Linked DNA regions of Homo sapiens. The protein of the gene in region 2 interacts with the protein of the main gene of each other region in a pairwise test. Each region holds a gene or a part of one and is shown on either strand. Other genes may lie near its edges.

The links.
Region 1: the proteins of TOM1 (region 2) and LITAF interact in a two-hybrid assay, tested with the Homo sapiens proteins (one large-scale study listed by BioGRID and IntAct).

Annotation. Positions count from the first base shown.
Region 1 is NC_000016.10:11,555,920-11,560,220, forward strand, and holds part of LITAF (lipopolysaccharide-induced tumor necrosis factor-alpha factor), read right to left. Parts: intron 817-4,301; coding exon of another isoform or gene 812-816; coding exon 592-811; intron 1-591.
Region 2 is NC_000022.11:35,316,173-35,321,276, forward strand, and holds part of TOM1 (target of Myb1 membrane trafficking protein), read left to right. Parts: intron 1-1,704; coding exon 1,705-1,789; intron 1,790-5,104.

The sequences.
Region 1 (4,301 bases), on a different chromosome or scaffold from region 2:
CCCAGGCAGTCTGATTCACGGGCCCCCTCTCTGAGCTAAAGATTTCTTTCAGAACTACCTGTGATACTAAAGCAGTGACATACCAGGGCACCCTTGGGCGGAAGGAAGCACCAAAGGACAGGGACCATCTAGTTGCTCAAAAGCAGAAGAGCAACTTGCATTGAGGGTGAGCTGGTATGAAAACACAATCACACATTGCTCAGGACGGTTTCTTCTCCTCCCTATTCCTACCTCGGCCCTGGCCTCAGGGCAGAAGTTCTGCATCAGACCTCAGGAGGAAGTGTGCGGGCCCTTAAGACACAAACTCCCATTCTCAGAAGAAAGTTGGTTGTGCCTCCAAGAGATGTGCCAAAAGATTCGTATATGATGACCATGGGAAAGATCCTAAACCATACTTTATTACGGAAAAGCTGTGAGCCTCACCAACATGGAATCTAAAAGACTGCGTGTGGAATTTCAAGGTAAGGGGGTAAAACTGGAACGTACTGGCACTTCACTTAGACTCTTTGGCAGAGTCACTTCGGTCACTCTCCTGATTCCCAGGGTGGAGGGCCAAGGAATGGTAAGGGGGGCCTGGGAGGCCACACGTACTTGGATTGTTATTGGGGATGGGCGCTGGCTGGGTATAATACGAAGGAGGATTCATGCCCTTCCCATCAGGCCCCGTCACAAGCCCCGTAGTTGGCCCAGGCATGGGAGCTGGAGGTGTGGGGTAATAACTGTTAACAGCCACTGTCTCTTCATAGGATGGAGGTGCGGATGGTGCTGAGGAAGGCCCAGTGGCCGCCTGGTAAGGTCCTGGAACCGACATTTTACCTAAAACAGAAACAGAACATACCAGATAAGAAATTCAGTTGATCTCTCCCTCTCTTTTTCACCTAAGTCTTCAATTTTCTTTCTGGCAAACAGAAATTCTGAGAAAATGACTTCCATCCAGCTTTGTCCAAAAGCTAGGAAGAGGGTTAATGTCCCTTCAAGACCCCAGAATTAATCAAAAAGTAAATAATTACTACCCAAAATCACCAAAACCTGGAAAATCCAAAGTGGAAACATCAACCAAATAAGGGTCATTTCTTCTTCACATCTTAAACCATTACCAGACAATGACCTACGTACCTTCCATATCTGGTGTTTCTTCTTCGTTGTTTTTTTTTGTTTGTTTTTTTGTGGTTTTTTTGGTTTTTAAACCACTGTGGTTTTCACTAACTGTTTCAGGTAACGGAAAAGATAAAGGCATTCAAAAACCAACCACAAATTATCACAAATAGCAAAGGGGCCAGATGCCACAAAATGCACACTGTATGATGCTATTTAAATAAAGGTCAGAAATAGGCAAAATGAATCCATGGAGCGGTTACTCTTGGAAGAGGAAGAAGAATCTGGAAAGGGGTATGAGGGGGCCTTTGCGGGGGGCGGGTCCTGTTCTCTTTCTTCACCTGGGGGCTGGTTACAGAGGTATGTTCAGTCTGTAAAAATCTCAGTTGTACAATTAAAATGTATATACTTTTTTGTATGTGTGTTATAGTTTTGTTTTTTGTTTTGTTTTATTTTTTTGAGACAAGATCTGTCACCCAGGCTACAGTGCAGTGGTGTGATCTCAGCTCACTGCAGCCTCCACCACCCAGGCTCAGGTGATCTTCCTGCCTCAGCCTCCCAGGTAGCTGGGACTACAGGCATGTGCCCCCCCGCCCGGCTAATGTTTTCATTTTTTGTAGAGATGGGGGTCTCACTTTGCTATCTAGGCTGGTCTTGTACTCCTGGGGGCAAGTGAACCTCCCGCCTTGGCTTCCCAATGTGCTGGGATTAAAGGCATGAGCCACCGCGCCCAGCCTCTGTGTTATAGCTTTTTAAGAAGGAAATACACATAGACTCCAGTTCTCATTTTGAAAAATGAGCACCAGAGCAGCCAGGCACACATTTTCTTTTGTGAGGGCAAAGAAAGGATTTCCCTCCAGCCCTGGCAGAGCTGCTGCTCGCCTAGAATTACACCCTGCACCCAGAGTGTGCTCCTGTCTGATGTTCCATGATCCAGCAGCCATGGGGCAGCTGGAAGCAGACACAGTGCTGTTCTTTGTGTGGCTGTTTTTCTAACTGGGCAGGGTTCAGGCTGCCTTAGAAGAGCCATTCAAACCTGTCTCGGGAGAAATGGGAAATGAGGCTCCGGGGCAGCGAGCCACAACCACCACTCCCCTCTCCCGACACTGTCTGCCTCATTTTCTAGAACTCGTGGGAAGCCAAGGCAGCAATTAATCCCACTGCAGGGAGAAGGGTAGAGTCCTTCTCAGAAGCCCTGCCTCTAAACCAAGCCCCAAAGAGGAGACTTCTCTGGAGGAACCGAAGAAAGGGTATTCACCTCAAAGTGGAAACAGAGACCAGGTGCGGTGGCTCACCTGTAATCCCAGCACTCTGTGGAGCCGAGGTGGCAGGATAGCCTGAGCCCAGGATCTCAAGACTAACCTGGGCAACATGGTGAGACCCCCATCTCTAAAACAAAACAAAACAAAAGGGCTGGGTGCAGTGGCTCATGCCTGTAATCCCAGTACTTTGGGAGGTTGAGGCAGGAGGATCACTTGAGCCCAGGAATTCACCACCAGCCTGGGCAACATAGTGAGACCCTGTCTCTACAACGAATAAAAAAAGTAGCCAGGTGTAGTGGCACACACCTGTAATCCCAGCTACTTAGGAGGCTGAGGCAGGAGGATTGCTTAATCCTAGGAGGTTGAGGCTGCAGTGAGCCATGATCACTCCACTGCACTCCAGCCTGGGAAACAGAGCGAGACTCTGTCTCAAAAACAAACAAACGAAACAAAGTGGAATAGAGGCGGGGGAGTGAACGTGATAAAAAGAAAGTCAGTAAGTAAAGATAGGTTGGGGCTGCATTCTAGAAAACTTTGAAAGTCCCTTGGAGAACACGTGTTCAAGACTTCTTTCTATCAGAGTGCTGTCCAACAGAATCTTCTGTGAGGATGGAAATGCTCTGTATCTGCTGCCCAATATAGCAGCCACCAGTCACGTAAGGTTATTGGGCGTCTAAAATGTGGCTTGTGGCCGGGCACGGGGGCTCATGACTGCAATCCCAGCACTTTGGGAGGTCGAGGCAGTGGGATTACTTGAGCCCAGGAGTTCAAGACCAGCCTAGACAACATAGTGATACCCTCTCTCTACAAAATTTTAAAAATTAAAAAAATTAGCCAGGCATGGTGTTGCACACTTCTGGTCCCAGCTACCCAGGAGGCTGAGGTAGGAGGATCACTTGAGCCTAGCAGGTGGAGGCTACAGTGAGCCATGATCATGCCACTGCACTCTAGCCTGGGTGACAGAGCGACACTCTATGTCTAAAAGAAAAAAAGAAATGAGCTAGTGTGAGTGAAGAACTGAATTTTTTTTGTTTTAGCTTCTTTTTCATCTTTTTACTTGCCAATGAATTTTTACTTGTATTTAAGTTTAAGCAATTTAAATGTGAAAACTAACAATTCAATTATTGGGAAGCTTTTATGTAAGTCTGGGACAACTTGAATATATGAATCATTTTTTCAATGGTAAATTTGATGAACACTGAATATAGATCAAAATGTTTTTTGATAAAAATTTAGCATTCAATTTGGGATAGAATGTCAATGTAAAAATACACCCTGGGTTTCAAAACTTAGTAGGAAAAAATGAATGTAAAATATCTCATTAATAATTTCTTATATTGATATATTAAAATGACCACAGCTTAGATATATGAAGTTAAGTAAAATGTATTGTTAATTTCACCTGTTTCTTTGTACCTTTCAAAATGTGGCTACTAGGCCGGGCATGGTGGCTTACACCTGTCATCCCAGCACTTTGGGAGGCTGAGGCAGGAGGATGGCTTGAGCCCAGGCATTCTAGATCAGCCTGAGCAACATAGGGAGACACTGTCTCTACAAAAAAATTAAAAATTAGCCAGACATGGTGGTGCACCCCTGTGGTCCCAGCTACTTGGGAGGCTGAGGTGGGAGAATCACTTAAACCCAGGAGTTCAAGTGAGCCGTGACTGCGCCACTGCACTCCAGCCTGGGCGAGACTGTCTCAAAAATAAATAAATAAAAACAAAATAAATAAAAAAGAGGCCAGACACAGTGGCTCACGACTATAATCCCAGTACTTTGGGAGGCCAAGGCAGACGGATCGCCTGAGGTCAGGAGTTTGAGACCAGCCTGGCCAACATGGTGAAACCCCGTCTCTACTAAAAATACAAAAATTAGCCAGGTGTGATATTGGGCGCCTGTAATCCCAGCTACTCAGGAGGCTGAGGCAGGATAATCACTTGAACA
Region 2 (5,104 bases):
TGCATGTGACACTTGCAGGGGAGGGAACCTTGGGTAGTGCCCTGTGTCAGAACAGGGTCTCACCCTTAAAAGGCGGAGCAAAGCCTGTCTTATCACACAGTCCTCCATGTAGTCACAATACATACCAGCCAGAGTGATGTGTGTAATGGAACGTTACCTGCAAGAAACAGGGCACAAAATTTCCTGTGTGCACGTGGTTGACGCGTGAAGATAGCATCTAGGAAGGCGCAGAGAACAGAAAACAGGCCATGCGGCACCTCCCTTTCCTAAAGACCGTTTACAAAGGTGCTGGCATTGCGAGTTCCTGCGTTCATCATTCATGTAATACCAATTAGTGCCTCCCACACTACAGTTCACAAAAGGCTGCCAAGCCCGGTGCTTGCTACCATGCAGACCTGCAGCCAGTGGTCCCGGCCATGGCCCTGACAGGCTTCCAGAACTCTGCAGCCGACTCCCGGCCTGGAAATCTTACCCTAGGAACTGCCACAAAGTGAAAATTTCGTGGAACTGAATAGAGGTGGTGGTGGTTGTATTCAGTATTACAGGTGTACCAAATGCCACTGAATTATACATGGTAAAATGGTTAGTTTTATTTTATGTGACTTTCGCCTCAACTTTTTTTAAAAAGAACCACCACCACTTGCTGAGTGTTTATTTTGGGCCCGTACCGTGCTGATACCTTGCCGTGCTGATACCTTACTGTGCTGGTACCTTGCATGAATCATCACCTCTCTTTGGGGTAGTTCTGCTGGGTGGCTCGGCATCGGTCCCTTCTGTGGGTGCCTCAGAAGGGTACAGGAGGGCCAGGTGACCTGTTAGTAATGGAGCGTTTGCTTCCTAGGTAAAGAAGCTCTCTGTGAGATTCTAGAGGAACCTGGTTACAGGGGATGCCTCTAGGAAGAGGGGGCTGGGGCAGGGGACAGAGATAGATTTACCTAGCTCCATTGTATACCACTTGAGAACTTTTACATTTTGTATCCTGTGAATGGTTACCAACTCAAAAGATAATTCTTTTTTGCTTGTTTGTTTGTTTGTTTTGGAGATGGAGTTTCGCTCTCGTTGTCCAGGCTGGAGTGTGATGGCTCAATCTCTTTGCAACCTCCGCCTCCTGGGATCAAACGATTCTCCTGCCTCAGCCTCCCAAGTAGCCAGGATTACAGGCATGTGCCACCATGCCCAGCTACTTTTTTGTAGTTAGTAAAGACGGGGCTTCACCATGTTGGTCAGGCTGGTCTCAACTCCTGACCTCAGGTGATCCACCCACCTCAGCCTCCCAAAGTGCTGGGATTACAGGCGTGAGCCACCGCGCCCAGCTCAAAAGATAATTCTAAAGTCAAGGGAGAACATCTTATCTACAGAAATGAAGCAAAGCACTGTCTCCATATTGTCATGTCAGGAATAAGCACACGGAGGCCCACCTAGATTCCCCTCTGGTGCATCCCTTTGGTGCACTCAGAGTCATGGTTTCCTCATCCATTGAAGAGCAGAGGTACTCCGGCCTCAGTGGCTACAAGAATCTAGTGACGATGGGACAATGTGTATAGAGCAGTCTCACACAGGGCCAGGCCCTGTGCCCAGGAAGTGTCTGTCATCTTCCTCCTCCCCATCTCATCCGGCCCTGCACCCCCCTCCTCTCCCACCCACGGTTTGAGTTTACCCATTCAGGACCCCCTCATGACTTTATGACTCCTGGTTTCTTCTCAGAGAAAGCCACAGATGGCTCCCTGCAGAGCGAGGACTGGGCCCTCAACATGGAGATCTGCGACATCATCAACGAGACGGAGGAAGGGTAAGGGCCCCCCAAGGAGAGGTTGGGGGCAGAGACGGCCATCCCACCACGCAGCACACTCCTGCACCCTTCCAGGGAGCCCCTGCCCCAGCCCCATTGCTGCCATAGCCACCAAGTCTGACCCAACCCGCTTGGCTGCAGAGGCCATCTGAGCCCCTAGTACCTGAGCCCCATCCAAGGTAGGAATTCACAGCTGGCCCCTGGGGGCTGCCACCCCACCCCGCCTCTCTTAGTGGCAGCCCAGATTCCACACGGATCTGGAAGCCCAGCCTTGTGTGCAGCATCTGCCTAGGATGAGGCAAGCTGGAGACTCTTAATCAGAAGTTGACCCCAAGCGCCATCTGCATTCTGCAGGCGGGAGTGTGTACTAGAGAGACTCCGGCTTTTCTGCGAGCAAAAACAGACTTCCATTTCCTTAAGATTTGAAACCAGCCTGGAGGGTAAGGGAGATCACAAGGATGGCAGGGAAAGTGAAGCTGAACCGTGAGCCTGAACAGCACTGGCGTTTGCCGGGCGTTTCTGGTGTTGGGGTCACGGTATCGTCTTGCTCAGTGCCAAGGAGCCCTGCCAAGGCACATGGTGTGGGGGAAGGATTGGGGTCTTGGCCTCCAATGTCTGACTCGTTGTCACTGACCAGCCGTGTGACCTTCGGAAGTCACTTTACCTCTCTAGGTCTTTGTCCTCGAAGGTGCTCTGTTAGATCCTTCCAGCAATAAGCCCGAGTCCCTGGAGGGAGCAGAAAGGGGATGCGAGGGTCCCTGTCCTCTCAGGAAAACCCAGCGAAGGCTGGGCAGAGGTGTGGGAGCCGTGGGCAGCAGGAAGTGCTGCCAGACGAGGCCTCCATCCTGAGAAATCAGTGTGGACCCTCCTTTCCCTCTCCAGTTCTCACTGGGATCATCCAGCTCTCCCGCGGCCAGTGCAGGGTTCCTCTCAGCCCGGGAGGGCTTTGCGTGGAGAGGCGCAGGCTGGATGCAGGTGGAGGGCAGGGAGTGCCCAGCTCTGAGCTGGAGGGAGGCTGTGGGCATCTGAGTCACACAGTCAAGGCCCAGTCAGGAGAGGGCAGTGGCTGCCAGGAACCTGCCGGTGTCTTCCTCAGCCCTGCTCCCTGATCTTGCCAAGGACTCATGAGAGTGAGGGTGAGGGAAGGAGTGGTGGGCAGAGGTCAGAAGAAAGAAAGCAGGAGGCAGAAAACCTCACCAAGCCTCTAGACAGGCCTGGGAGCTTCATGGACGTCGCAGCTGCAAGTCACTGCAGTATCCTTGGGGACAGCAAGCCCCCATGTCCCTTATAAACATGGGAGGAACAGGCTCGGCGTCGGTCAGGTGCATTGCTATTTATTTGAGCACTTTGTGTGTTCCAGGCAACACAGGAGGCACTAGGGACCCAGCAGTGATCAAAGGCAGGCATGACCCTTGACCTCACCAAGCATGGCACCTAAACTTAGCCTCGTTGCTAAAGTGTCTCCCCCACTGGGTTGTGGCCTCCTTGTCATACACTTTGTGCTCCCAGCAGAGTACCGGACATCATGGGCCCACAGCAGTGGCAAGGCCAGAACTTCCGATTCCCAGTGCTTCCCTCTAGGGAGAGAAGGCGTCCAACAAGGACGCTGTCCCTGCGCTCTAGGAGGCTTCTTCTCTCCCAGGGTGGGCCCCCAGGTCAGTGGCGCATGGCGGAACATGCCAGGGAATGATTCTGATTCCCTTGTGTCTAGGCCACCCTAGAAGAGGTGGAAAGAAGTCACTATAAAGCGCTGAAGTAGCCCGTGGGTCAGTGGCCAGGCCAAGACCAGGAGCCAGGGACGGGCGAGGGGCTGCCCAGGGAGGCAAGGGTTGGAAACTGCTCTCAGGCTTCTGGGCCAGGACCCCCCTTGGTGGGCCACCATCCCTTTCCCCACCGTGTCCCTTCCACCGCAGGCCTGACCGCCTCCATAGCTCTAGCCCCCAGGCAGGCTCTGTCCCTAGGAAGCCTTGCCTCTGCCTTCACTCCTGCTGAGAACCAGTGCCAGGGTTCCAGGCTCTCCTGCCTTAGTCCTGGATGGGGTCAGCACTGACAGCCAGGCAGACAGCCGGATGGGTCCCAGTGGCCACTGGCCAGGCTGAGAAATGTTACTTGTGCTTCAGTAGTGTGATGGGCTCTAGGAAGGGAAGCTGTCCAAAGAGAACACCATCCCTGCCCTCTAGCAAGCTTCTTCTCTACCCAGGGTGGGCCCCCAGTTCAATGTGGCATGGCAGAACAGGCCAGGGAGACTGGAGGACCTGGGAAAGTGTTGTGGAAGGGGTGGATTTTAGCTGAGGCTTCACCTCATGGATGTGGAGGTCAGGAGCCTTCAGGGTGCAAGTGGGGGCCCTGCACAAAGGCTTTTAGACAAGAGCAGTCAGGGCAGCACTGAGTATACCTGTATAGGGCCGAGGGTGGAGGATGGTGGGAATCACAGAGGGGACAGGGAGAGCAGGCTGGCACCCCAGCTTCCAGGGGCCTCCCAACACCGTGACCCCTAGGCTTCTTCAGCCCTCCCCGACCTCCCCCACACTCAGTGTGGCCTCCTCTTAGTTCCTCCAAGGCATCAAGCTCCTCTGCACCCAAGACCTTGGTCCAGGCTCTGACCTTGACCCAAACTGCTCTGCCCCCACTCCCCCCAGGTGGTCCTTCCCATCTTTCAAGGCCCAACTACAAGACCACCCCCTCGGAGGTCTTTTCTGACCACCCCCATCCTCACCTCTGCTCTTTTTCCAGGACCTGCTTATTCCTTGCTCTTCTTTGGATCTCCCCGCAAGGTGGGGAGGAGGCAGGGCCATATGGTCTTGTTTGCCACTGTGTCCCCAGCACCTAGCATGGTGCTACATACATATTGGGTGCTTAATAAGAGTTGAATGGGCCAGACATGGTGGCTCACACTGGTAGTCTCAGCGTTTTGGGAGGCTGAGGCAGGAGGATCACTTGAGCCCAGGAGTTCCGGGCTACAGCGAGCTGTGATTGCACCACTGCACTCCAGCCTGGGCGACAGAGTGAGACTCTGTCTCAGAAGGAAAAAAAAAAAAAACTTGAATGGAAGGGTAAATGGACAGATAGAGCAGCTGGCCAGGACGGGGCATCAGAACACTATGCTAGCTGGGCTCAGGGACTCATGCCTGTAATCACAACATATTGGGAGGCCGAGGTGGGAGAATCATTTGAGCCCAGGAGTTTGAGACCAGCCTGGGCAACATAGCAAGACCCCATCTCTATTTTTGTAATGAAAACATTATGCCTCCAGGTTATTTGTTCTTAAACTTGAGCATGCATAAGAAACCCTTGGGGAGCATGAGAAGCATTCAG